4 linked regions of the Homo sapiens genome follow. The protein of the gene in region 4 purifies or fractionates together with the protein of the main gene of each other region. This does not show direct contact. Each region holds a gene or a part of one and is shown on either strand. Other genes may lie near its edges. The genes, in order: FKBP15, VPS33B, PIGR and ITPRID2.

Evidence for each region.
Region 1: the proteins of ITPRID2 (region 4) and FKBP15 purify together in Homo sapiens (affinity purification with mass spectrometry; 3 studies listed by BioGRID and IntAct, with this or other methods). This does not show direct contact.
Region 2: the proteins of ITPRID2 (region 4) and VPS33B purify together in Homo sapiens (affinity purification with mass spectrometry; 3 studies listed by BioGRID and IntAct, with this or other methods). This does not show direct contact.
Region 3: the proteins of ITPRID2 (region 4) and PIGR purify together in Homo sapiens (affinity purification with mass spectrometry; 3 studies listed by BioGRID and IntAct, with this or other methods). This does not show direct contact.

What each region holds. Positions count from the first base shown.
Region 1 is NC_000009.12:113,169,278-113,176,302, reverse strand, and holds part of FKBP15 (FK506-binding protein 15), read left to right. Parts: intron 1-1,719; coding exon 1,720-1,875; intron 1,876-2,697; coding exon 2,698-2,850; intron 2,851-4,596; coding exon 4,597-4,722; intron 4,723-5,673; coding exon 5,674-5,781; intron 5,782-6,360; coding exon 6,361-7,025. UniProt on the Homo sapiens protein: May be involved in the cytoskeletal organization of neuronal growth cones. Seems to be inactive as a PPIase. Involved in the transport of early endosomes at the level of transition between microfilament-based and microtubule-based movement.
Region 2 is NC_000015.10:91,005,573-91,012,597, forward strand, and holds part of VPS33B (vacuolar protein sorting-associated protein 33B), read right to left. Parts: exon of another isoform or gene 6,862-7,025; intron 5,598-6,861; exon of another isoform or gene 4,982-5,597; intron 4,275-4,981; coding exon 4,229-4,274; exon of another isoform or gene 4,219-4,228; coding exon of another isoform or gene 4,213-4,218; intron 3,405-4,212; coding exon of another isoform or gene 3,332-3,404; intron 2,393-3,331; coding exon 2,298-2,392; intron 2,002-2,297; coding exon 1,897-2,001; intron 1,475-1,896; coding exon 1,378-1,474; intron 1,158-1,377; coding exon 1,080-1,157; intron 874-1,079; coding exon 800-873; intron 488-799; coding exon 401-487; intron 213-400; coding exon 122-212; intron 1-121. UniProt on the Homo sapiens protein: May play a role in vesicle-mediated protein trafficking to lysosomal compartments and in membrane docking/fusion reactions of late endosomes/lysosomes.
Region 3 is NC_000001.11:206,943,443-206,950,741, forward strand, and holds the start of PIGR (polymeric immunoglobulin receptor precursor), read right to left. Parts: upstream 3,025-7,299; 5' UTR 2,894-3,024; exon of another isoform or gene 2,826-2,893; intron 1-2,825.
Region 4 is NC_000002.12:181,887,676-181,894,753, reverse strand, and holds the start of ITPRID2 (protein ITPRID2), read right to left. Parts: upstream 3,025-7,078; 5' UTR 2,688-3,024; coding exon 2,477-2,687; intron 2,140-2,476; coding exon 2,094-2,139; coding exon of another isoform or gene 2,090-2,093; exon of another isoform or gene 56-2,089; intron 1-55.

The sequences.
Region 1 (7,025 bases), on a different chromosome or scaffold from region 4:
CACACATACATGTATGTATACTGACAACTTTTTTTACAGTAGTGGTATCACGTTTAATGTTTTTTAGGAAAATGTCATGGACTTGTACTACATAAGAAGGAGATCTTTCTCACTCGTAGTTAACTGCTGCATAGTAGCCTACTATGAGGCTGTACCATAATTTGTTTAATGATTTGCCTATCGATGGATATTTATGTTTTTATTTTTTCATTATTTTAAGCACTGCTTCTATGGACATTCTCATATTATATAACTGTTTTTGCAAATTTGTTTGAGCATTCCTACGTGATGGATTGCATGAGTAAGAATCATGGGATCAAAGGGAAGGCTACATATTTGAATTTTTATAAATATTACCAGGTTATCCTCAAAGAATAGTGCTTACACTTTCAGCAGTATGTGAGTGAGCCCATTTGTCACATTCTTCCCCACTCTACATATATCACTTTTTCTAATCTTCATTAGTCTGACAGGTGAAATATGTTATCTTGTTTTAATGTGTATTTTTATTAGTAGTAAAGCTTTCATATATTTAATACCTATTTGTATTTCTTATGTACATTCTCTCTTTAGTGTCCTTTATCCTTTTTCCTATTATTAGTTTGATTTGTAAACCCTTTTAAGGGTATCAATCCTTTGTCAGTCATAGATGTTGTAAATATTTTTCTAGCTTGCTGTCTTTTAACTTTATTTATAGTATCTTTTGTTGGTTAAAATTTTAATATCAGGAAATACTAAGTGAACAAAGTGAGAACATTTCTATCTTTTTGTCTGTTCTGGAATCGTTTAAATATGAAAATAATAAACTGCTCCTGAGGCTTCAGTAAATCTCATTAGGTAAAGCTGTTTTGGCCCAGTGCCTTTTAAGAGGGTAAATCTTGGTCTGCAATTGCATTTTTTTCCAGGATTTTTTCCATTTTATTTATTTATTTTTAACCAATTCCTTCTAACCTCTTGGCTGTTTTCAGTTTGTCATTACTATAGATACTACTACAGTGACCATCCTTGTAACACACTCTTTATGACTATGACTTATTGAATCCTTAATTACAATTTGTGGAATTTCTGGATACGTATGTTTTTAAAGGCTTTTCACAGGATTACTATCCAAAGAGAGTATATCCATTCGTTTTCTTACTATCAGGGTATGAGAATGTCTGATTTCCTGTACCTTTATTAAAGTTAGGATGTTCCCTAGCTCTTTTTTTTTTTTTTTTTTTTTTTTTTTTTTTTTTTTTCTGAGGCGGAGTCTCGCTCTGTCGCCCAGGATGGAGTGCAGTGGCGGGATCTCGGCTCACTGCAAGCTCCGCCTCCCGGGTTCATGCCATTCTCCTGCCTCAGCCTCCCAAGTAGCTGGGACTACAGGCGCCCGCCACTACGCCCGGCTAATTTTTTGTATTTTTTAGTAGAGACGGGGTTTCACCGTTTTAGCCGGGATGGTCTCGATCTCCTGACCTCGTGATCCGCCCGCCTCGGCCTCCCAATTTCCCTAGCTCTTAATAGAGGGGTAGATACAGCTCTTCTTGTTTTCCTTCTCCTGTCACCATTTTCCTCACCCAGTAGCCAAGAATGTTAAATATTTAGGGGAAAATTCAACTAAAAAATGGAGTTTTCAGAAATGGAGTAAGGATTCCACAAGGTAATTAACTGCCACCGCCATCATCCCTCTTTATTCTCTGTTAACAAGCTAGAGCTGATGATGGTTCTCTTGTTCCTAAGAACCTCTCAGAAAGGAAAAAGAAGTCAGCTCAAGAGCGTTCTCAGGCCGAGGAGGAGATAGATGAAATTCGCAAGTCATACCAGGAGGAATTGGACAAACTTCGACAGCTCTTGAAAAAGACTCGAGTGTCCACAGACCAAGCAGCTGCAGAGCAGGTAATGGGAAACTGAAGCACTTTGAAAATAGAGGGAAGGTGTGAAGGACTCAGAGAGAAAAGCTTCTGGTTTCTTCCTTACCCTTTAGGATGACATTTCTCATAGCTGATACTCTCACTTTGGAGAAAGGTAGAAAAAGTAATCCAGATATGTGCAGGAGAGCCAGGAATCAAATGGAGAATCTTCTTTCTTTTTTTAAAGCTTAGTTAATATTTAATTACATAAGTAAAAATGAAAAATAGTTTCCTTACAAAAAAAATTCCAAACATGGTAAGGCCAAAACCATCAACCATTGGACACCATCCTTCAGGCACATTATCATCCTTGAAAAGAAGGGATTGATTTAGGTCATCAGGAAGGGAACCAGGGATAGTGGCAGGACACAGCTGGATCTCTAGTCTGTGCAACAGCAACCTTTCTCATTATAAGCTTAAAATTTATATGCATACATTTGTTTAATTAGAGTGCATTGGTGCCCTCAATTTGACCACCTCTGGGAATTTTGGTGAAAAAAAGTTTCTGAACCTATAAAGTTTAGGGTTCAGACCCTGAAAAGCAGTGATCACATGGCCCTGCCCTCCAGGGACCTATCTAGATAGGCACACTTTTGTCTGCTTGGAGTACCTTTTGGAGTCCTGACAACCAATGACATCTTAAGAAGTGCATTTATTTTAAAAGTAATGAGTCTTTTAAACAGTTTCCCAGTTAAATCTGGGCTGTTAGCTTATTCTTTTGCTTTTTGAAAGATGGGTTTCCCTAGGTGCAATGGAATCTCACTCCCCCACCCCCAAGGATGATATGGTCATTACTTTCTCTTGGCAGCTGTCTTTAGTACAGGCTGAGCTACAGACCCAGTGGGAAGCAAAATGTGAACATTTGTTGGCCTCCGCCAAGGATGAGCACCTGCAGCAGTACCAGGAGGTGTGCGCACAGAGAGATGCCTACCAGCAGAAGCTGGTACAACTTCAGGAAAAGGTACATATTTTTCTTGAGTCAGACAGTTTAGGCAGCCCAGTTAATTTGAGGCAAGCAGGCTGTTTGAGTCCTGTCGATCCTTCTAAGCCTGAAAGTTATTAATATCTAGAAGACAAAACCACACTTGTTTAGCTTGTCAGTTATCTTTCACATACTTATGTGGGGTGATAGGTCAGTGACCTGGAAAAAGAGAAAACAGCACTAGTGTTCCGGAACATGTTTCCCATTATTATTGGATCCTTCATTTATTAAGCAAATATTTATTGAGAGTCAGTTGTATTCCATCCAGTGTGTTAAAGGAAGTGCATACAAGGAACCCTTCCCTCATGTATCTCACAGTCAAGAAAGGGAGACAAAGAAACAAAGATAGGTGTTAAGTGCTATGGGGCCCAGAAGAGGAAGTACCCAGGAGAGCTGGGAAGGTTTCCCAAAGGTGGTGACATTTGAGCAGAGCCAAGAAGGACAAATAGCTTTGGTAAGGCAGCAAAGGAGGCAGAACATCCTGGGCAAAGGCACTGAGATAGGATGGAGGCTGGGGTGTGGTGGGATCATCAGGCCTGAAAAAGAGAGATGGGACATGGCTTAGGGTCATGGTGTGAAAGTCCATATTCGAGGTCAGTTTCTTTCCTTAAAGTGTCCAGTTGAAAACTTTTGGCTCAGAGATCTTGGAGGCAATCTTGCAGATGAATGACAAATGGGTTGCTGTTAATGCTGAATGTTTATGTCTAAATGACTAGTTATTACCTACCCTCCTGCTCTTTTTTCATTATATTTTTTACCTGATTGGGAACAAGGCAAGCAACCTTCTTGGGAAAGAGAAAGTGAAGTTTTGCGTTGAAGTCGAATGATGAGGAGATAGAACTCTCTGAGGCAGAGGGTCGTGGGTGGGGGCTGAGGGAGTGGACACCAGCAGACCTAGGCGAGGTTAAGACTTGATGTTTAGAGATTCTGGAGAGGATGTGGAGAAATAGGAACGCTTTTACACTGTTGGTGGGAGTGTAAATTAGTTCAACCATTGTGGAAGACAGTGTGGCGATTCCTTAAGGATCTAGAACTAGAATTACCATTTGACCCAGCAATCCCATTACTGGTTATATACCTAAAGGATTATAAATCATGCTACTATAAAGACACATGCACATGTATGTTTATTGTGGCACTATTCACAATAGCAAAGACTTGGAACCAACCCAAATGTCCATCAGTGATAGACTGGATTAAGAAAATGTGGCACATATACACCATGGAATACTATGCAGCCATAAAAAAGGATGAGTTCATGTCCTTTGCAGGGACATGGTTGAAGCTGGAAACCATCACTCCCAGCAAACTATCACAAGGACAGAAAACCAAACACTGCATGTTCTCACTCATAGGTGGGAATTGATCAGTGAGAACACTTGGACACAGGGCGGGGAACATCACACACCGGGGCCTGTCGGGGGTTGGGGGACGGGGGGAGGGATAGCATTAGGAGAAATACCTAATGTAAATGATGAGTTGATGGGTGCAGCACACCAACATGGCACATGTATACCTATGCATCAAACCTGCACATTGTGCACATGTGCCCTAGAACTTAAAGTATAATAATAATAAAAAAAAAGAATTTGAAATAAAATTGTCTTTTTATTATATGCAAAAAAAAAAAAAAGAGACTTGATGTTTGGGTGGTTCTCCTCCCCTTGGGTTTTCTGACCTTCACCTGGTTCCTGAGGCCACAGCCACAGTCTGTTTGTTTTGCAGTGTTTAGCCCTCCAGGCCCAAATCACAGCTCTCACCAAGCAAAATGAACAGCACATCAAGGAACTAGAGAAGAACAAGTCCCAGATGTCTGGGGTTGAAGCTGCTGCATCTGACCCCTCAGAGAAGGTGAGCTGGTATTTCAAATGAGAAGCAAGCCATTTATATCAAGCATTCAGAAAGAACATGGCCAGTATGTTGTGTTAATAGCTCTTTTTCTAACTTTAGTGATGTTTTACTTGTCTGATGACTTTAAAATGAACCAGATTTGGTGTTTGTTTGTTTGAGACGGAGTCTCACTTTGTCACCAGGCTAGAGTGCAGTGATGTGATCTTGGCTCACTGCAACCTCCGCCTCCCAGGTTCAAGCGATTCTCCTGCCGCAGCCGCCTGAGTAGCTGGGACTACAGGCACGCGCCACCACACCCAGCTAATTTTTGTATTTTTAGTAGAGACAGGGTTTCACCATGTTGGCCAGGATGGTCTCGGTCTCTTGACCTTGTGATCCGCCTGCCTCAGCCTCCCAAAGTGCTGGGATTACAGGCATGAGCCACCATGCCCGGCCCAGATTTGGTTCTTGAGTTTAAGGAGCTTACAGCCTAGTGGGAAAACAAACAAATACATACTTACATATTAAGTGGCAAACCCAAAAGAACCCTATCTTTCTGAGGTTTTGACAGGTATAGGAAGGGCCTCTAACCACAGAAGAAGAATGGGGCTTGGGGAGTGTGCCCAGCATCCACTGGCCTCTGACCCTTAGAGCCTATGGCAGCTCCTAGTGGTGCTCACAGTGGGAGGGGGACATCAAGAAATGGTCTTTAAGCAGTCTTGGGCACACAGACCACAGCTTGCCTGCCCTTGATAGGTAACTCTCATGACTAGCCCTTCTGTCAAAGTGCTGCTCATTATTTAATATCATCCTCTCCACAGTGACAGCCTTCAGTGTCTCTGCTTATGACCAGCAGTATCCCAGTGTAGAGATCTAAGATGGCTTCATTTTGGCCTTCCATACACCTCTCTGGAATTTAATGCATCCTTTAGTGACTTGATTTTGACAGCATGTGTTTTGATGTTCACACAGGTCAAGAAGATCATGAACCAGGTGTTCCAGTCCTTACGGAGAGAGTTTGAGCTGGAGGAATCTTACAATGGCAGGACCATTCTGGGAACCATCATGAATACGATCAAGGTACAGCCAGCCAGCTGTCATTTGTTTCATCGTATTGGGCATTTTGTTGCTTAAGTACCTTCTAAGGGATCATGAATAAAAAATTGTTCAAAGCTGGCACAGTGGCTTATGCTTGTAATCCCAGCATTTTGGGAGGCCAAGGTGGGAGGACTGCTTGAGGCCAGGAGCTTGAGACCAGCTTGGGCAACATAATGAGACTTTGTCTCTACTAAAATTAAAAATTTAAAAATTAGCCGGGTATGGTGGCACGTGCCTGTAGTCCCAGCTACTTGGGAGGCTGAGGCAGGAGAATCACTTGAGCCCAGGAGTTCAAGACTACAGTGAGCCATGATTGCCCCCAACTGCACTCCAGCCTGGATAACAGAGCAAGACCCTGTCTCCAAAGAAAAAAAAAAGAAAATTATTCAGGACTGTTCCTCAGTAATTAGGATGCCTGGAGTGACTTGACAGATATAGTCAGCCTCTTTTAACAGGAAAGAAGCAAAGTCATTTAAACTACATGACCAGTAGTGTTAATAAGAATTAGGAGTGGCTACTGTGTTCCTTTCAGTGACCATCTCTTCCTTGGCTTTTGAATAGATGGTGACTCTTCAGCTGTTAAACCAACAGGAGCAAGAGAAGGAAGAGAGCAGCAGTGAAGAAGAAGAAGAAAAAGCAGAAGAGCGGCCACGAAGACCTTCCCAGGAGCAGTCAGCCTCAGCCAGTTCTGGGCAGCCTCAAGCACCCCTGAATAGGGAGAGGCCAGAGTCCCCCATGGTGCCCTCAGAGCAGGTGGTCGAGGAAGCTGTCCCGTTGCCTCCTCAGGCCCTCACCACTTCCCAGGATGGACACAGAAGGAAAGGGGACTCAGAAGCTGAGGCACTCTCAGAGATAAAAGATGGTTCCCTTCCACCCGAACTGTCTTGCATCCCATCCCACAGAGTTCTAGGGCCCCCGACTTCAATTCCACCTGAGCCCCTAGGCCCTGTATCCATGGACTCTGAGTGTGAGGAGTCACTTGCTGCCAGCCCAATGGCAGCTAAGCCCGACAACCCATCAGGAAAGGTCTGTGTCAGGGAAGTAGCACCAGATGGCCCACTACAAGAAAGCTCCACAAGACTGTCCCTGACTTCAGACCCCGAGGAGGGGGACCCACTGGCCTTAGGGCCTGAAAGCCCAGGAGAGCCTCAGCCTCCACAGCTCAAGAAAGATGATGTCACTAGCTCCACCGGTCCCCACAAGGAGCTGTCAAGCACAGAGGCAGG
Region 2 (7,025 bases), on a different chromosome or scaffold from region 4:
ACCAAGTAAGACCATATGCATCAGATGAACAGGGATCTCCTCCTCGGGAGTAATGGTCCTCTGGAGCTTTCCCCAGAGGGACACAGTCACTTCCCCTCACGCCCCTCAAGCTGAAACCTACGGAGACTCAGCAGGCGGTGCTCCTGTTTCAGGCCCTTGAGCTCCTGGGACACGAAATTCTTCATCTGCTTAATGTCCATGCCTCTCCGGCGCTGTGGGAAAATTCCCAAAGGTGAACCCCCCAACCTCAGACACGAGAAACCACCACCCTCCCTCAGTTGCCATCCATCCATGAGAAAGGACAGGGAACCTGTCATAGTATTAGAAGGGGAGCCCAAGGGCAGCAGCCTTGGGAAGCCACTGAGGCAACAAAACAGAGGAGCAGGGCTTGGAGCCTCACATCATACTGGGCCTGCAAGTTCCGGGCCTTCTGGCTCAAGAAGCCAAAGACATTGGAGAAGTGCTCGTTCCGAATCTCATTAAACACCTGTGAGGACAGTAAGACAAGAACAGCTTACTCTGTCAGAACCATAACTTAGCAGTAGAATGACAGTACAGGAAGGGTACTCAGGTGTTCTGGCAGAAATACAAAGAAAGCTGAGCTGGGATCTGTAAGTCCATATCAAATGCCTACACCGTGTTCTAGGAGATGCTCTGAACTGGTGGGGAAACCCTCTCTCCCATAGACTCAGCCTCCCCTCTCAGAGCTGGGGCCCACAGCCTGGTATAAGCAGGGGGCCCACAGCCTGGTATAAGCAGTGGCCCTAGGTGGGCCCATTGCTAGCACCCACACCCTCACCTTGTCCTCGGCATTGAGTAGCACCTTCAGGCTCTTGTCAGAGGATGTGACTTCTGGGCCAAAGTCGACACTCCCTTTGAGAGCAGAGGGACAGCTATTAGGATCTCCAATGAGGACTTCTCCTACCATTCCCTGAACTGCCATAAAGGTCCTCAAACTATTTGGAAGCCAGCAGTTCATTCAGGGTCTGGGTCTCTCCCACAAACCCTGCCCCACGTGGGAGGTGCCAAGGCTGATGACCCGTCCATCTTGCCAAGATGCAGAGGACCATAGCACTTACCACACTTGATGCGGAAGGTGTCATCTACTAGGCCCTCATAAACCACTTGGGAGCAAAGTGCTGTCACAAAGTCCACATCTGAAACAGAGATCCCTGACCATGAAGGTTCTCCCTGACCCAGCCTTCTACACAGCATGTCCAAGGGCAGCTTTGATACTTTCCATAGGGCCAAGGACCCACGCTCCTCAAAGCTGGGATTCACAGCCCTAACTTTAGGATTTTAACTTTGCCACCACGCCTTCCATATTCCCGTGTCTTCTAGGGCTGAAAGATGACAGGAACGCTGGGCATAATTTACCTCTGTCCAAGAGAAAGATATGTCCAATCTCTGGCCTTCGGCCCTTGGTTTCGCCATCCTCCTCCTCCTCCAGGTTCCTCCACAATTCATATGCCATCTGCCAGGGCCCAAGACATTCTCAGTCTTGTGTCCAGGTCCCTACTGCAGCCCCATACCTACAGAAGTCAGCCCTTTCCACGTGATACTTCCTCTTGTCCCCGAGACAGGAGCTAATTATTCACAATATGGCCCTATCTACTCCCGTCTGTGTCTATCTTTCCCCAACACTCTTCCTACTGATGAGAAGATGTGTTACTCTGTCCCCAAAATAAAAAGAGATTTAGGAATGCTACCCAGGAGATCCTGGCTTTTGCTTCTCTGTTAGCCACACAAGTTCTCCTCTCTGAGGATCTATTCCAGAACAATGAAAGCAAAGTAAAGAATACACCTCATATCACAGGTGCCCTTGGATAACCCCAGGAGGGTACAGAACAGGGAAAACAGCGTCTGCTGGGACAACAGTACTGCTAGTGCTCTTACCTTGGCGCACCTGCCAATTCCATAGCAGTTTGGAAAGGGTCCATAGAGAGTGCTGAGAAGGTGTAAGGCCTGAGCTACAGTGTTGATCCAACGCTGATCTCCTTCCTGCAGGGACCACACAAGCCACAAAGATATGAATCAACCCAGTAGGACCACCTGGAAAGTGGCTAGCCCTAGAAGCCCTGGAGCAGGGTGGCAGGGCCTGGGGGATGCTTGAAAGGTTTTCATTGGCTCCACAGGAAGTCCCACAGAGACCAATCTGTAGCACTCAATCACCACATCACTATCACTTGTGATAAATTACTTGCGTTGGACAAAGGTTATATTGGTATTTCTAGCCCTCTGCATCCCACATTTGTCCCCATCCCCTGATGCCAAGACACAAGGGCCTCTGCATTTACCAGAAAGTAATCCCTGAAAAATTCTGGTAGTTCCATGCTCAGCAGATCCACATCAAGAGGCAGCAAAGAGAAGGCCCATTCATCACAGCTCACATCTGTGGGGACAGAGAGCATCAGCCTCCCTGCAGAAGGTACTTAGCTCCACGTTAAGAGGGAAGGTCCGCCACAAATATTTGAGTGCGTGCAACAAATATATGAGTGCCTGCCACATGCCAGTACTGCATTAAGCAATGGAGGCTCAAAGAAGAATAAGACACAGTCCCTGCCCTTAAGGAGCTCACAGTCTGATAAGGAAAGGAGATGTGTCCACAGCAGCCTGTAATACAATGTGATAAGTGGTGGGTTTTTACTAGAGGGCTGACCAAAAGTGCCGAGAAAACATTCATTCATTCATTATTTATTTATTTATTTAGAGATGGAGTTTAGCAATTTTCATCCAGGCTGGAGTGCAATGGTGCAGTCTCGGCTCACTGCAACCTCCGCCTCCTGGGTTCAAGCAATTCTCCTGCCTCAGCCTCCCAAGTAGCTGGGATTACAGGTGCACGCCACCATGCCCAGCTAATTTTTGTATTTTTGGCAGAGACGGGGTTTTGCCATGTTGGCCAGGCTTGTCTCAAACTTCTGACCTCTGGTGATCTGCCTGCCTTGGCCTCTCAAAGTGCTGGGATTACAGGTGTGAGCCACCACGCCCAGCTCACTCATTCATTATTCAGCATATATTTACTGAAAGCTGCCTACATGTAGGACTGTATGAACACCAGAGATACAGCAGTGAGCAAAATGGACATGCTCCCAACCTTCTGGAGCTTACAGTCTAGTGAGGGAGACACACCAGACAAATTATGACACAAACTATTAAATCACGGTTGTGCTCCAAAGAGGTCAAACAGCAAGCTGTGAGCACATATATTAAAGGGATGTAACCACAACTGGGGGTATAGGAAAGACTTCCCTCAAGAAGAGAAAATCAAGCTTAGAATTTGGGTAAGACTCGGGAAGGCAAAAAGCTATAGGGTGGAGAACGTTCTGGGTACCTGGAAAAGCATGGGTAAAGTCTCTCTGGCTGGAGGGTGGCGAGTCAGGAGAAGGAAGCAGCACACGATGAGGCTAATGGGACAGGAGGGGCCAGACTGTGCAAGGGATAGGAGGCATGTTGGGGATTCTGGGCTTTATATTGAGCCGCTGCTATTTCCAGCAGGGAGGGCTGTGATCAGGTTTGGGTTGTGTGGAGAATAGCGGAGGAATACACAGAGGGGAGGCCCAGTTTTTCCTGTGGGAGCCTTGGAAGGTGAGAAAAGAGTGGCTGGTCATTTCCAACTCTAAGCCCTGGTGTTCCTTTCATACTACCCCAGGAGTGTTCTTTTCTTATCCTTTCTTTTCCCTCCCTCCCTCTCTCTCTTTCTCTCTTTTCTTTTATTTTCTTTCTCTCTCTCTTTCTTTCTTCCTTCCTTCCTTTCTCTGAGTCTCACTCTTGTTGCCCAGGCTGGAGTGCAATGGCGTGATCTCGGCTCACTGCAACCTCTGCCTCCCGGGTTCAAGCAATTCTTCTGCCTCAGCCTCCCGAGTAGCTGGGATTACAAGCGTGCGCCATCACGCCCAGCTAATTATTGTATTTTTAGTAGAGATGGGGTTTCACCATGTTGCCCAGGCTGGACTCAAACTCCTGACCTCAGGTGATCCACCCCCTCGGCCTCCCAAAGTGCTGGGATTACAGGCATGAGCCACTGCGCCCAGCCCCCAGTAGTGTTCTAATTCGTGGTCCTATTCCCATTCCCATTCTCAGGAACCTCTCCTCCTGCTACACTAACAGGAATAAGACCAGGAAAAGAAGGAGCTGGTGGTGGGGGTGGGGTGGGGGGGTTGGAGAACAACAACAGTTTTTTCTTCTGTATGTTCTCTTTCCCTTTCCACTCACATTCATCTCCTCTCACCTCCATAGATTCCCTCTTCCTCAAGCACCATCTCACACGCATAGAACTGAAAGAGAAAAGGAAATTGATTAGTAACTACCTTCTTCTCTGTTCTCTCCATTTCTCTGGAGTTCCTCTGTGGTCACTGATGAGGACAATAATTGCCGAACCCAGTGAAAGACAAGAGAACCCAGACTCTTAAGATCTAGAAAGAACCATTAGAATCATTCAGCCCAGCACTTCAGTTCTTTCTCATCCATTTAATTTATGTTTGAGTAAATTGCTTCTTATCTCCCTGAGAGAATGGAAGAGGTTTACAAAGGAGAAGGAGTTCAGCTGTCTTCAAAAGGTAAGTTGTACAGACAGAGATGAGAGCAATGGCATGAAGTGCTCTGGAAATTGTGGAGGAGCAGATGGGAGGAAAAGATCTGTACAAGGGAGAGTGAGTTCTGTTTAGGACATGCCCACGGGACCTTGGGAGACACAGACAAGGACTTGGGATTAAGTAGCATATATGCTGTATTTAAAGTGGATGATGTGGCTGGGTGCACTGGCTCACTCCTATAATCCCAGAACTTTGGAAGGCCGAGGCAGGTGAATCGCTTGAGCCCAGAAGTTCTAGACCAGTCTGGGCAACATAGTGACACCCCATCTCTACAAAACAATGCAAAAATTAGCTGGGCATGGTGGTGTGTGCCTGTAGTCCAGTTACTCAGGAGGCTGAGGTGGGAGGATCACTTGAGCCCAGGAGGTCAAGGCTGCACTGAGCTGAGATTGTGCCACTGCACTCCAGCCTGGGCAACAGAGTGAGGCCCTGTCTCAAATAAATAAATAAAGTAGATGGTCTGTCCAAGAGAAAAGAACACGCAGAGGAGAGCTAAGGACAGGACTCTAGGGAACACAAGATGAAAGGGGGCCAGAGTACAGGACCTGGCAGGGAAGACTGAGAAAGAATACTCAGAGAAGCAGGGGCAGGAGAAAACAGCAACAGTCAAGGCAGGAAAGGTGAGAGTTGCAAGGAAGGGTGGGCAACAGTGTCAAATGCCAGGGAAGTTAAGTAGGATTAACATTAAATAGACACCAGTGGATTTGACAACGGAGACCTGAGGGAGACTAGATGAAACGATGAAGGTGGAGATGAGGAAGCAGAAGCAGTGACAATAGAACATTCTTCACAGAAGCCTGGCCCTGAAAGAAGGGGGAGCTCTGAAAGGGAAAAGAGATGAAATGGGAGACATTGTTTAGAAGGCATAGACATGGGTGAAGGCAGAAGAGAAAGTCTACCTGGTAAAGCAAGATAATGGAGAAGGAAAGCAGAAATGGGGCCAAGAACTGGCATGGAACAGCTCATCTTAGGAGGGAAAAGGCCACGATCTCTTCCTCCTTTGAGGTAAGTGGGGAAAGGGTGAATATTTTAAAGTAATGAGAAAGAATGCTGAGGGCACTCACATCTGATAATGAGTTGACATTATTAACAGCTAATGTTGTAAGCCCTTAAAATGGTTTAGGCATTGTTCTTAGTGTTTTACAGGAATCACTTGTCTTCATCTTCATACTAGCTCTGTGAGATGTAGATCAATGCTACGTGCTCCTTATTTTACTGTTACACAGAAGAATCCTATTCCTCCCTCACTCATTTCTGCCAGGAAAACTGAAATCTTCAGGCCTGCTTTTAACTTTTAATGCTAAGTAATGGAATTCCAGAGCCAGGTCTGAAAACTGCCAATCTTCATAATTAACAAAGGAGTCTCAAAGAAGAGAGAGAGATGCCTCCTAATATAAAATTAGGTCAAAGAATTTGATTAGATAAGGTGTTAAGTGGAGAACACTCATAAAAATAACTATTTTGTTTTTCTGTGTAATAGAGAGGCTTGTAGGATTATTTTAACTTGTAGGATTATTCCCTGTTAATACAAATCTGTCCTTGGCCAGGCGCAGTGGCTCATGCCTGTAATCCTAGCACTCTGGGAGGCAGAGGTGGGCAGATTGCCTGAGCTCAGGAATTTGAGACCAGCTTGGGCAATATGGCAAAACCCCACCTCTTTTAAAAATATAAAAAATTAGCCACGCACGGTGGTGCACATCTGTAGTCCCAGCTACTCGGGAAGCTGAGGCAGGAGAATTGCTTGAACCTGGGAGGCGGAGGTTGCAGTGAGTCGAGATTGCGGCACTGCACTCCAGTCTGGGTGACAGAGCAATGCACTGTCTCCAAAAACAAAACAAAACAAAACAAAACAAAACAAGACAAGACAAAACACCAAAGCTGTCCTTGGAAGCATAATTTGAAAAGAAAAAAAAAAAAAAGGTTTGTAAGAGTCCAAGAACTAGAAATTATTGCCATGACTCCTTTAGTAACATTCAAAAGTACCTATAATTCTGAGTGGTTGTCCTACTCAATAATTTCTTGCCCTGGTAATAATACTTCACGTTTGTATTCCTAAGCATATTATCCTAAGATAAATATTTGTAAGATTGTGCTATCAATGTTCAGGTGACATTCAAAGGAAGGTCACTGGCTCTTTCCTCTTATTCCTTTTACAGAAGGAGAAAACAATATAAGCCTAGGGTCCCACTTGATTTCTTATTTCAACAGAGACTCAAAGTCATCTCACTTAAATTAAAAGATAAGTACTATTATCAACTCTATCTTCCAGATGAGAAAACCGAGACACGGAGCAGCTCAGTACCTAACCCAAGACCACACAGGTAATAAGGCCTCAAGGGTGGATTTTATCCAGACAGCCTGGTTTCAGAGGCTTCAGTCCTTAGTTACTGCCTCTATTTTCTCTAGAATTTTCTTAGAAAGATTGAAAAGGAA
Region 3 (7,299 bases), on a different chromosome or scaffold from region 4:
TTTTTCACTGCTGAGGCTAGGATGTGCTAGATCATTTTCAGTTTACTAAGTTAGTATCCCAACATATGTGTAACATATGTCCCCACAATTGTGGATTGGGGCAGGAGTGTAAGCTGTGCTGAAGGATAGTTTTTCTTTTTATAAAATGTATTTAACTAGCTCCTGTTCAGTTAAAGTGACTGCACTTCATCTCTCATGGTGTGGAGTCCAAACCTTTGTCCATCTAATCTCAGGTTTCCCTCTTTTTCAGAGGAAGAAAGGTCCCCTGGACTTGGTATGAGAGTAGAAGTCTGCTTGCTGGACATCCTTTGAAGATAGAGAGATGGAGAGTGAGCTACTTAGGTTGGACTCATGTGGATAAGAGAGGAGACAAGCACTATGGGCTAGGCTAGAAGAACGTACGCTGAGTCCTTTCCAGGTGCTTTACATGTGTTAATGTGTTCCATTTTTACAGCCACCATAGGAGATGGGACAAAATGGGCAACCCCATTTCATGAGTGAGATAATTGAGGCACAGAGAGGTGAGACATTTGCCCAAGGTTGCACAGTTGGTAAGTGACTTAGATGGGATTCTAGATCAAGAGCATAGGCCCTTAGCCACTCTGCTTTACCTCAGAGGGTCTTCCTATTGAGAGGAAGCAGTGGAGAGAGGAAGAAGCAGGATATTCAATCTTAGCGAACTGAGAATTTGTTCAGTTCTTTCCTCTCTGCCTTTCACGGAAAAGGCAGTTCTTATAAGGAGACACCTGGGGCCGGGCGTAGTGGCTCACGCCTGTAATCCCAGCACCTTGGGAGGCTGAGGTGGGTGGATCATGAGGTCAGGAGTTCAAGACCAGCCTGGCCAACATGGTAAAACCCCATCTGTACTAAAAGTGCAAAAGTTAGCTGGGTGTGGTGGCATGGGTCTGTAATCCCAGCTACTCAGGAGGCTGAGGTAGGAGAATCGCTGGAACCCAGGAGGTGGAGGTTGCAGTAAGCCAAGATCACGCCACTGCATTCCAGCCTGGGTGACAGGGCAAGATTCCATCTCAAAAAAATAAAAAATTAAAAAATGAAGAGACACCTGGACCCAGAGGTAGGTGCCAACAGAGAAATTTCTTCCTGGAAAATATTAGCTGCTATTTATTTAGCACCTACCATGTGTAGGATATGTTACATAACCATGGGTATAACCAGGCATGTTGACGCCAAAGCCTCTTTCCACTCCACCATACTGTGTCGATGCCAGTGACATTGGGACTCCAGCCCCAGCCCCTCCAGAGAGAGGGCAAGACATAGATGAAGGTCTCTGCTGAGCACAATGCATAGGTATTTTTTTTTAAGTTGGATAGTTTGCTTTTTAGGTGACATCAAAATGTCCTCATGACCATATCAAAATGGCTGTACCAAAACCTCATCGTTCAAACTTGCTGGTGACTTCACACCACTCACATAGACTCACGGTGTCTTGGTTTCCTCAACTAGGGAATGACATCACAAAACCAACCCTGCCTACCTCCTCGTTGGTATCAAGGGAGAATGAGACGAAGGTGTGAAAGCCCAGGGCAAGTGGGTTTACTAAATGGAAGCCTGTGTGACCCCATTTTTTATCACCTAAAGCCACAGAGGTCTAGCGGCACTAGGAGATAAGCAGAGAGAGTTGCTTTCCTGACTCCTGGCTCAGTGTTCTTTCTGCTACTTTAGCACATCCAGGGGCGGGACAAGGATGGAGAGAGAATTCCAGATCTGGCTCTGGGAAGACCTATGTCCAGGCACCAGACAGCTGCCTTCTACCTAAACCCCTGAAATTGGCATCTCCTCTCCAGATGTTAAAGGATCTATAATTCCCCTAGTGAAGGGGGAAAGTGATGGCACAAAATAGGAGCAGCTTCAATGGCCCCAGGCACTGTGGCAATTGCACAAAGGGAACTGGGGGTCAGGGATGGAGCTTGACCCGCTGCTGCCCTTGTGCCGGACGGTCCCACTGCTGGCTTGGGCTGCTGTCAGGATGGGCAAAGGGAGGGGAAGCCCATGTCTGAGATCTGCTGGCTGCAGAGCCAGGAGGAACAGCAGGAGTTGATCATGCTGCCTGTGGGGCTCAGCTCCACCTCACTCAGTGATCCCGTGAGGACCTCTTTTTTTCTACCTCTAGGAAGGGCAGGATGATGCGATGACACACATTTATGTCTCCCATGGCAGGAATCTGCTAGAGCAAAGCGAGGTGGAATTGCAAAGGATTTCAGAGGTTCTTGGAAGCCCAGAAAAAAGGAGCTGAACATGCCTTTGCCAGAAAGCCACAAGTGGGAAACCTCAAAGAATGGAAGAGGACTTGCTAGGTGCCATACTTTATGCGCACTATCTAATTCCAGGTCTGTTGGTGTTCAATAAATCCTTGATTAATTAAACTAAACTGAAAAATATGAAACAATTCCTATTTCATTCTAGAGGTTACAAAGCTATTTCACCTGTGTTTTCTCATTTGAACCCACATTGACCCTGAATGATAGGTGTTATTTCTATCTTTGTTTTACAGATTAAGAAACTGAGGATCAGAGAGGTTAGGTGGCTTGTCTAAGGCCACACAGTTAATCAACTATGAGGAGTTAGGAAATCCAGGCACAGACCAAGCTGAAAGAGTAGAATTACATATGCTGACCACAGAGGTCCCTTCCCACCTGCTGATATTTCTCAGAAAAGGATGGGGGGCTTCCACACACGTGCATCCCTACTCGTCCCACTGCGATATGCACGCTTACTCCCCAGCCACACACAGTCACACAGTCTGCCTCCTTGTCCTTGTCACCCCACTATCTAGGAGACTGGGAGTTGGGAATGGAGGGGGTTACCTGAGCCATCGTCCCGAGCCCTTTCCAGATAGCATCCCGTCTGGGGATCCCAGAGCAGTAACACTTACTTTTAGCCACTTCCTTCTCTCCCGTTGATCTGACTTCAGGGACACAGCCTGCTGGCCAGTTGGTAACCCCTGCCTCTCTAGGAGCTACTGGCAGGGCACTGGACGCTGCTGCCAAAACTGAAACTCTGCTCAGTGTTTGACCCACACCTGGGCTCTTAAAGGGCCACTCTCCCACAGGCACCGTGGCCAGCCAGGGTCATGTGACTCTCACAGATCCCTTGCTTTCCTTTCATTTTGGCCTTCCTGGCTGGCTCCATTTGGTTTCCTTTGACCTTGGGGAGACTCTGTTACTTGGGAATCCTCCATCGTTGCAGCTTCAGGATGAGGGACAGAATGTCAAGCGTGAAGATGCTGTTCTGTCGCTTTCTAGCTGCAAGACCTTTGGCAAGTCACCTTCCTATTTCTTTTCATCTGGAAAAGAGGGATGGTAATACCAAATCTACAGGTAGAGGATATAGCCCGGTATTAGCTCTAAAATACCTGGCCCAATGCTTGATTTGAAGTTGACATCATCTGATGGGGCACAGGTGGCAGGAGTGGCTGTCGTAGTCCTTGGTCTCATATCCCCAGTTGCTCTGGAATCCCCTCCGACTCCCTAGGTTACTTAGCCTGGACAAAAATGCCCCTTATACACCTCCTGCCAAGCCCCTTTTACCAGTCCCAGAGCTCCAGGAACTGGCAGGACTGTGGCCCTTCCTGTTTCACTCCCCAGAGTCATGAAAGACTCGCTGCTTCTGGGCTCCCCTGAACATGGCTGACCTCAGAGTCTTGTTAGGACCCGGGCTCGGCTCCATAGCAAGGACGGTGCTGACCTGCTGAGCTGAAGTAGCACCTCCTTCCCTATCTGTTAGTCCATGCCAAAACATGACCTGGTTGGGACTCCCAGGTGTTCCCCAAATGATCGTGGCAGTCCTGTGACAAAAGTGAAGCCCACTCCCCAACACACACGTGTATGGCCCCCCGACCCCTCACTGCAAACCCCCACAGAAATGCTGCCCATCCTACCTGTGCAGGGCTGACCCAGGCTCTCCCTACAGAGTCCTATAGGCCAAACACCAGAAGGGGAAGGAAAAATAGAGAAATAGAGCCCTGGAGAAACACAAGGCAGCCAGAGCCCTGGGTCTTATTTTAGCTAACCACTGGCTCACTTGTGGGTGTTAACACACAATCACAGATTTCAATGGCAAGCAAAAAAACCCCATAATTTCTTTATGTAGCTTAATTTCTCTCTTTTTTTGTGGTTTGCAAACTTAGATTTTCTTTTTTTATTTTGTTTTAGGTTCCAGGATTACATGTGCAGAACGTGCAGGTTTGTGACACAGGTAAACGTGTGCCATGATGGTTTCCTGCACCCGTCAACCCACCACCTAGGTATTAAGCCCCACATGCATTAGCTATTAGTTCTAATGCTCTCCCTCCCCCCACCCCCCCCAACAGGCCCGGATGTGTAATGTTCCCCTCCCTGTGTCCGTGTGTTCTCATTGTTCAGCTCCCATTTATGAGTGAGAACATGTGGTGTTTGGTTTTCTGTTCCTGTGTTAGTTTGATGAGGATGATGGCTTCCAGATGTAGCTTAATTTCAAACCCTAAACCCATAATCTGACTGATAAAAGAAAACAAGTTACCTAGTCACTTCTAGGCAAGCTCAGCCCAATTCAGTGATCTCTCAGTCACTTCACTCCAGATTTAAAATTTAGCCTCATTATGGAGTTCCCTTCCTTTTTGTCTCCCTTCTCTCCCCTGGGGTCCAGTCTGGAGAGAGCGGTCTTGGGTGAGGGGGTGGTCAATGTTACTGCTGAGGCAGTGAAAAGGGGTGGCCCATTATTATTTTGGTCTTGCTTTGTCACGATGCTGTGCTGGCCTTGGGCTCCAGAAGGAAATAGTTTTGTCTACTGAGATGTGACTTCCCCTGCTTGGTCAGTGGGCTTTGTCCCTGCTCATCCTGAGGGTTCTGTGGTCCACACTGTGCCCTCCTAGTCCATACACTGAGCTCCCTGGGGTGGGTCTTCCAGGCCCTCAGCCTCTCCTTGCCCACCTTGTGGGTGCAGGGTGAGTTTGGCTGATCACAGACTCCTGAGGCCTTTGGGAGATCCTGTGCAGCAGAGTCACATTTTCCCCCAACACTCTTGTAACCTCCTGTGTGCCAGTGTTCCCATATAATTGGGGGTACAATGGATATCAGCAAGACTGTGGACCACCAAAGTTCTCTACAGGATGGGCGAAGGTGAGGGCCCCTCAATCTGGAGTTTTCAAGCCCACCTGGATATCTCTATCATTGTTAATCCCCTCTCCCCTACTGTAGCCTGGACTCTGCCCCATGGTGGTGGGTGGGAGGGCACCAAGACACATCAGTAACTAAGCTCTCCTTTTTACTCTTCAGCAGTCTTTCTCCTCCCCAGTTCTGGGGTTAATGTCTAGCAGGAGGATGCGAGGGGAGACAAGATATGCAGGTGCAGAGATGAGACAAGCCTGGTTCTGTCAGATTATAGCTCCTTTCAAAGGATTCCCGATTTATACCTCTCTCCATTTGAACTCAATAGTCAAAATATTTGTAGGGTTTGTTTCTTCCTTCCCAAAGCAAGAAATAAGTTGTGTCCAGTTGTCCAGGCTGGAGTAGAAGTCAAGGCAGGTTCACAGAACACTAGTGCAGAAATTTGACGAGCAAAGGCTTGCAGGGAGGAAGGGGAGAACACTCATTAAATCATTTCTTCTCATGCTGCCTTGGTGGGCGTGGAGGACAGGTTGCAGATTTCCTTCCCTGCTTTGCTATTTCATGATGGTGGGTAATTTACTAGATCATGTCCTGCTGCATGTTTTCAATAGTCTCCAAAACTGTCTTAGCTGACCCATGTCAGACACACACACATACACATACACACACACACACCCCACATACCTGGAGCCCACTGATCCTACTGATCCAGTTTACAGAAAGGGGAAAATGAGAAGTAGAGCCCTGGGAAGAGGCAGGGAGTCAAAAATCCTACGTCCTATTCTGGGCTCAGCCACACGCCGGTGGTGTGATTGGACTCACTTGCTTCCCCTCTCGCACTGTGGTTTCCCCATCTGGAACCCAGTGGCCCTAAAATAGTACTATTTCTCAGCCCTGGGGGAGGAGGGACAGGCCAAGAGAGTCCATTGCCCAAATCAATAATAATGATGATAACAGCAGTGATTATACTTTCCAAACTTACAACACTTCATCTGCTCAACCCTCCCTGCTTCTTTTAAAGTAATCATACAAGAAAATATACCAGCAGAAGAACAGCTTCTCACTGGACTTTCCTGACTCTGGGACTCAGCATAAGTCACTGTGGAACACCTTTGTTTTGTTCCTGATTCTGCCTCTAATTGCCGAGTGACCTTTGCCAGATCACTTCATCCTGTAGGTCTGCAGGATTGTTTGTTCCATCAGAGGACAGTGCCAAATTGTTCCCAAGGCTCTTTCAGTTCTAGGATTCTGTGTTTTGGTTGAGCACCGTATTAGTTTCTGACAGCTGCTATAACAAATTAACACAACTTTAGTGGCTTAAGAAAACAGAAATGTATGCTCTTTCTGTTCTGGAGACCAGAAGCCTGAAATCAAGGTGCCAGCAGGGCCACCCTCCAGGCTCTAGACGATAATCCGTTGCTTGCCTCTTCTAGCTTCTGGTTGCTGCTGACATTCTTTGGTGTTCTTTGGCACGTAGCTGTGTCACTCCAACCTCTGCCTTCATAGTCACATTGGCTTCTGTGTATGTCTCAAATAACTCTCTGTTTCTCTGTTATATGGATGGTATTTAGGGCCCACCCAGCTAATCCAAGATGATGTCCTCATCTCAAGATCCTGAACTTCATCACATCTACAAAGACTCTTTTCCAAATAAGGTCACACTTCTGGGCTCCAGAGATTGAGACATAGACAAACCTTGGGGAAGAGGGATGGTGGTTATTTCTCGGCCTACCAACCATGACAAGCTCAAGGTCCAGGGAGATTTGAGACATGCAGGAGAGTGCACCCCTGTTCCACAAGGGCAAGTAGTCCAATTGAGAAGTCATCACTCACATGCAATACTGTCAAGGAACAACACAAGCCAGGAGGTAGCAAGCATAGAGAGCCTGTGTAGCCTTGGGAAAAGAGCAGGGGCTCTGGACCTCGACGCCCTGGGTTCACATCCAAGCCTTACCACCTGCCAGCCAGGGAACCTTGAACAAATTATTTAATGTCTCTGGGGAAAATTATACTTACTGTATAGGTATGTTATAAAGATTAAGTATAGGCCAGGTTCAGTGGTTCACACCTCTAGTCCCAGCACTTTGGGAGGCCAAGGTGGGAGGATCACTTGGGGTCAGGAGTTGGAGACTAGCCTGGGCCACATAGCAAGACCCAGTCTCTACAAAAACAAAAAAATTAGCCAGGGTGGTGG
Region 4 (7,078 bases):
TTCAAGCAGTTTTTACTTAGTCCCCCCACAAATGGTTATCAAAATAAAGACTCCCTTTAAGGAAAGAAAACACGGTATCTTTATTCAGGATATGGACGGCACTAAGAAACAAAGACTATTTGAGAACTTATCAAGTGGGTAAAATGCTGTCTTCAGGTCATTTGTACATAATAAACAAAATACATAGATGCCCAACTCTGAGAAGGAACTTGAGTTGTTATTTAAAACAAAAATACAGATGCAACATATCCTAAGTCGAATCTGTGATAATATAGCCAAGATTAAAAGACTACTTGTTCTAGCTTTCCTGGATACAAATGAATGCCACTCTTGTGTAGAATAGGTGCAACTGTAGGAACAAGAAGGTAATCCATGAGAGAAGGAGCAGCAGACTACAGAATCTGCCCACATAAATCAGTATTGGCAACAAAACTTCTGAAATTGTCAGGGATTGACTGTGCCCTGGTGAATGTCAACATTTGCCTACTGCATTTGTCTCAAAAAAGATGCACTTATTTACTGTCTAATTGATAGGATCTCTTATACAATCTTAAATCCTATATGTCATTAAACTATAGTGTGATTCTTCTCTTGTTCTTAATTTTTAAAATTCTTTTGAATATGCACTTGAATTTAAACAATAAAACATTATAAATGTATTTGTAATGCTAAGCCTATTTTAAGAAACCTAAAGTAAGCCAATACTGTACTTAGGACTGTATTTAAATAAAGAGTCAGATTGGAGGCTTTAAAGGACTTAAGTAAAAGTTACAAAACAACTTCTCAAACACATTTCTAAGTGGAAACCTGAAAGATACTAGTTTTATCAGATCTCACCCAAAAGGTCTTGAACATGTACATTCAAAATTTCAAGCTTTTACATTATAGACTATTTTAGTATTTAACAATTAAATGAACCAATAGCACATTAATACAATTTCTTGATCCATACTTTGAGTGAAGTATCTAATATCTAAGGCTTATCTGAAAACTGGGAGATTGATTTACAGCTAGATTGTAAATCTGGGGTCCAAGGACTTCAAGCAGTGTATTTGCCTCTGTGCATCTTTAAACAGAAGTTATTCCATATATGTCATCATATTTCAGAAGGGTCTATGACACTTCCAATAAAGGGTACGAGTTCTGTAATAAAGAGTGTTCAATAAGGTTCCAGTCGATTCATCAAAACAAGGCATTAATATCATGGTAGCCAATATCTTGTCTGTCTTTAGAGGAGGCAAACTGGCATATGAATCACTTTCCACAACAAAACAAAACAAACTACCCTAACTCTAATATTTGAACAAAATATTAAGAAAATCTAAATTGAGAAAGCAAAAATATGCTCGAAAGCAAACACCAACAAAAGTTTAAAGGCTACATTCCTGATTTTACAACTAGCAAAGTGGAATAAGAAACAAGTACATTTTGCTGTAGTCAGATTTACGTGCAACATGATTCATCTCCTCTGTATTTTATCAAACATTTTTGTACCAGTTGCCAAAGCATGTAATTAAACAGATTTATGCAGTCTGAATGCTTTTAAAAGTTCTATTCCCTGAGAATTCCAGTGCCATCTGACAATTCCATGTTCAAGAAGTAAACTATAAGTACAAAGTTAGCTAGTTTTAATAGCTCCCCAAACAGAAACAAAATTAAAGCCCATTTAGTGTAGTTAGGTAAATTAAACTCGTCTAAAACACATTTGAAAGGAAAATGATTCCGTGCCAGTTGTACAGATGCCAAAACTAAAGCAAAACAAAATATCCTGTTCGAGATGTGAGAATTCTTTCAAATAAAAACAGAACAAATATGGCATGATTATCTGTTCTGGATTTCTGATCTCTGATGCTAACACGATGCGTGAGTAGCTCAAGTCCTAACTGTAAAGTCAACACGGTCACCAAATAATCAGCGGTCACAGCACTTCCATTTCTAATCGCTTAGAGGAGGAAGCTATCCGCCGGCTCACTTTCCGGTTTGTAGCTTACAACGGTCGCGGGACCCACAGGGACGCGGCCCGAGTGGCTCTGCTCCGGCGTCCCGTCCGCACGGATCTCCCCCGGGACGCGGGCGGACCAGGGAGCACTCACCGGCAGTCCTTGAGCCATATCGCGATCTTCTCGTTGGGCACGTTTCCTGGGGGTAGAGAGAGGGGACAGCACGTTACCACCCAGGAGCACTACGACGGCGGAGTCACCCTGGACCCTCCCAAGTAGGAAAATCTACCACGGCAAATGCAGCCTAAGCGACACGTCTCAGTGTCCCTTGGCAGGGAAATCGGATGGCACCCAGTTGTCTGTGTTGACGCTGGGGGCGCCTCGTTCAGCGCGCGCGTTTGAAGGTCGGAAGTGTCCCCTCTCCCCTCGGCCTACCGTGCCCGAGGCTCTCCCAGAACTCGTGGCAGGCGCCCAGGGCGCACGAGACTCTCCCCAGCCCACCAGCCTCCCCCCGGAGCCCGGCCGGGAGCACCGACCTCTTCCCCCCGCTGCCGGCAGCTGCGCGCCGGGGAGGTCCTCCTCCTCGTCCTCCTCCTCGTCCTGCGTCGTCGCTTCTGTGGACAGATCCTCCGTCTCCGACGCTTGCCAGGAGCTGCGGCACTTGGCCCAGGCCTTCCTCCTGCGACTCGCCACTTGCCACTCCAGTTCCTCCTCCGCCTCCGCCGACGACGACAGGGGCCGGTCCATGGCCGCACTGGGGGCTCCGCTACCCCAGCCGGACCCTGCGCGAGACAAGGCGGCGGCAGGGACCCCCGCCCTTGCTGTCAGCGCCCGGCCGGGCAGGGGGCCCCGGGGAGCTGAAGCGGGCGCCGGAGGAGGAGGAGGAGGAGGAGGGGACAGGGAGGGAGGGAGGGAAGGAAGGGGAGGGAAGGGGCGGAGGGCCGGCGCTTCACATGAAGGCGGCCGGGCGCGCGCGGGAGCGCTAGTGGCCCGAGGGAGCGCGGCTGGGAGCCGAGCGCCCGCCCGGCCCCTGCTCCCCACCCCCTGCCTGACGCGCCCGGAGCAGGCCGGCCGCTGCGCGTCTGCGCGCCTTCCCTCGGCGGCGGCCCACGCCCCCTTCCGGCCGGGGCCGCGCGGGGCGCGGTAGGGCGGGGCGCGCCCGGCGCGACGCGGAGCAGGCCAGCCCCCGACTACTGCCCGCGGAATGGGCAAGATTAGTTTGTTAATAATCTTTCCTCCTCTCCTCCTCCTCCTCCCTCACCTAAAAATAGAACGTAAGTGGGGAGGCCAAGTCTCACAAAACATCCCCCGCGAGAAAACAAGTGTCTGCTTGGGCACCCTGAAACATACACTTGAAAGAGTCGCCTGAATATAGACTCTTTAGTGTCCAAGGAATTGGGGTAAGGACGGAAAGAGGTGCTTGATTGGTGTTGCCAAAATGTAAAAACTGCAAAAGACTAAGCTTCCTGGAGTGCTACTTTCATACTTAAAGTTATTTATCGTGTTTATGTTATGAATGAAAATGAATTGTGAAAGGATATTTAATCTGGAAATTTCACATTGAAGTTGGACTTTGGTGAGGGAGAATAGAGGAAACAATTGGGACAATGTGGAGATAGTTGCTTGGATTTTGGTGAGACAGCATGATACAAGAAACAAATGATGTCAGGGTTCAAAACTTTTTAAAGCCAGCTTTGGCATTCCGTTTTGTTATGTTTAAATTCTCATTAGCAAAAATACTCAAATTCTATCCAAAACCAGACACAATGTGACAGACCTATCAAGCAGCATTGTTCCCCTAAATGTTACATCTGAACTATACATATAAGTAAGGCTTCCAATATTTTATTGTACTTGGCTATGCTCTGAAGAACAAGTTAGAACACTTTTTAAAATCTTAACGTGATTGAAAAGAATATTTTGCGTAGACAAAATATTTTAAGGAAGGAATTATTTTTCATTTGAAATTAAAATCCAGAGCATAGTAAAATTCCTAATGGAAGCATTCGAATTACAAGGTAATTAAGTGCATTGTCATTGATAGCTACAGGAAACCATAACTTTTGGAGAATTTGGAATGAAGAATGCTCTGGAGATGAAATAGTGCCTAGTTTTTGTCCAGGCATTTACACATAAGTCATAGACTACTAAAATAGCACACTGATTTTCCTGCCTTCATTCTTTCCTATCTCCTTTCTAGCGCATTGCTCTAGATTTACAATTCCAAGACATCTTCTAATGGTTTACTAATATCCCCAAGATCAAATCCAAAATCCAGACTAGCTTTCCAGAACCATCATAATATTCTCCTGAGTCTCATCTATGTACTGCCAAATGTCAGGGGAGTTAGAACAGTGATATTAATATCTCTATGGCTTGAAATTTCACTACTAGAAAATCTTTTCTTTGAACCTATAAGACTTTCTCAGCCTTCAAGGGTCCTGTAGTAGGATGCAGCTAACAGTTTAATGGCTCTCCAAAATAGGTCAGAGTCTCGCTGCCTGTGTGGAAGATGAAAAAGAGAATGAATAAAGAAGGTACCTAAGAAGAAGCATTGAAAGGGCTGGTCAAGTGCCACAAAATATGCTGCCTTCAAAGTTTTATCCAGGGTTCTTACGTATCCACCCTGTTCCTCTGCTGCTCCCAGCTTCAATTCTATCATATCTAAGTGCTGTTGCCTACTCTGTCTTTGCTAATTAATTCATTCCTGTTCTTTCTGTCCACTACCTTCATGACTTTCAAAATCTAGCTAAGCCAGAACTTTTTGACTCCACCATTCCACCACTCCTGATCACACCCCTCCCACAGGGATCTGATATACAACAGCATGTCTATGTCATTTATTTGGGGACTGGATTGTAGAGTAAATAATATGACTGGCCCTGGAAGGTATGTTTGGCTTACTAGCCAGATTGTAAATTGTGAGAGATGATAGAACATTCTTCAGTATTCTTGCACCCCTTACACTTTTAAATGCTGATCCCACAAGGGATAATGGGTCTTCTTGAGGTAGTTTCTGTTTTCTGTGTTCTTCAAAGAGACACCTAAATTGATTATTTTAAAATTTGCTTCATGTTATTTCTATAATGCTTATATTTTATTTAGGTTTGCAGTTGTTTAAATACACTTTCAGATGACAACAACAAAGAATTCTTGTGAAAGGCAATAATTAACCATAGTTTAAAAAAAAATCAAACAACCAGAGTCAAGTAATAAGGGGGAAAAATTACCAGCAGGTAACAAAGTAGAATATATACATTATTCAGTTTCCGGTAGCACAAATGTGTGCTTTCTTCTACATGGCATTTTTTAATGAAATATGTTGAGGGTATAGAAGTAATAGAGAAGGAAATCCTTGAAGTAGTATGCTATTGCCTTGAAAAGTAAGGTTTTTTCATTGTATTCTCAACTTTTACAGATGTTTTAAAATGCCCAAGGTATTTCATTTATTCGATAATGAATACTACACATGAAGAAAGTCTGCATGTTTGCTTCTTCGAGGATTTTCTCCCAAACAAGTACTATCTTGTACACCAACTGCAAATATACATTGCGAAGCTCTACATAAAGAGTATTGTCTGGGCCAGGCATGGTGGCTCACACCTGTAATCCCAGCACTTTGGGAGGCTGAGGCGGGGCAGATCACCTGAGGTCAGGAGTTTGAGACCAGCCTGACCAACATGGAGAAACCCTGTCTCTACTAAAAATACAAAATTAGCCATGCATGGTGGCGAATGCCTGTAATTCCACCAACTTGGGAGGCTAAGGCAGGAGAATAGCTTGAACCCAGGAGGCAGAGGTTGCGGTGAGCTGAGATTGTGCCATTGCACTCCAGCCTGGGCAAAAAGAGTGAAACGCTGTCTCAAAAAAAAAAAAAAAAAAGAGTATTGTCTGAATCAATGATGTTTGCAAGGTGGAAAAAGAAAGAAATGTATATTAAATGTGGATAATTCCATCCAGCATGACATAGTGGAAGCAACGTGGTCTTTGGTGTTAGACTGAAGTTTGAAATGTTTCCCTCTTTTTCTAGCTGTATGGTATAAGGCAAGACAGCTAATATCCCAAGGCCATGACTTTTCTCATCTTTGAAATAGCAATCATGATAACTACCTTCCCAAATTGATGTGAATCTCACAAGAAATAATGTAGGTGCTCAGTATAGCTATTAGAATGATTATATTGCAGAAAGCAAAAAATAAATCAATTTCATATGGGGGAATAATTCTCATATTAGCAAATGGCATCTATCATCATGCTTATGCAGCTGTATTTTAAAATTGGCATAAGTTCAGGCAAAGATAGAAAACGTATACTTTGGTTAAATCAGGCAGTTTTATATGGGAAAGCATGAATCATAAGGGAAACATTGTTCTTGGTTTAATTAGATATTTAAAATTGCAAAACAAGATTTACTATTGGGTAGGCTAAGCCATTTTGGTTGTAGTTATGGTATTGTTTCTTTAATAATATTTATATGCTCAAAAATTGTATTTTGTGCATCAAAATCTTAATTATTTAGAATCTGATTAGAGAGTGGTAGAGTTGCAGTTATTTCTTCAAATTCTCATCTTTTGTTAAGACAAAAGGGGCCTCAGAGGTATAAGGTTAAGTAGAATATCAGGTTAAATGAACAAAGTAGCATTTTATATTTTGATAGTATTGCCTGGAGAAAAAAATTCTATATAAAATAAGAATGGAAAACACTGCATATTATACCCCCTCCTCTTCCTCCACCCCAGCCCAGTCACAATGAATGTTAAAGACTTGAGACGTCTTCAAAACTTGTTTTTTAAAACTTTAATTTTTTAAACCCAATAGTTATAAAATTTATTTCAACAGTAAATCTTTTTGGCCCCTCAATGTATCCATTAACATTTCCAGGGATACCAGTGAAATAATTTGCAATAGCATAAAAGAGAATAAAAGAAAAAATATTAATAAATAAGAGTAAACACTTCAAAAATTTTCAGAGATTTATTTACAAATCATGTAATTGAACTATGAGGAATGCTGGTTAGTCTGACTTAGATTGGGTTATTGATATATTCCTCTATTTTTGAGACCATTATTAATTATTAAAGTATTTCTGATTTTAGTATTTCTGGTTATTGTATATATGTTAAAGCAATAGAATTACA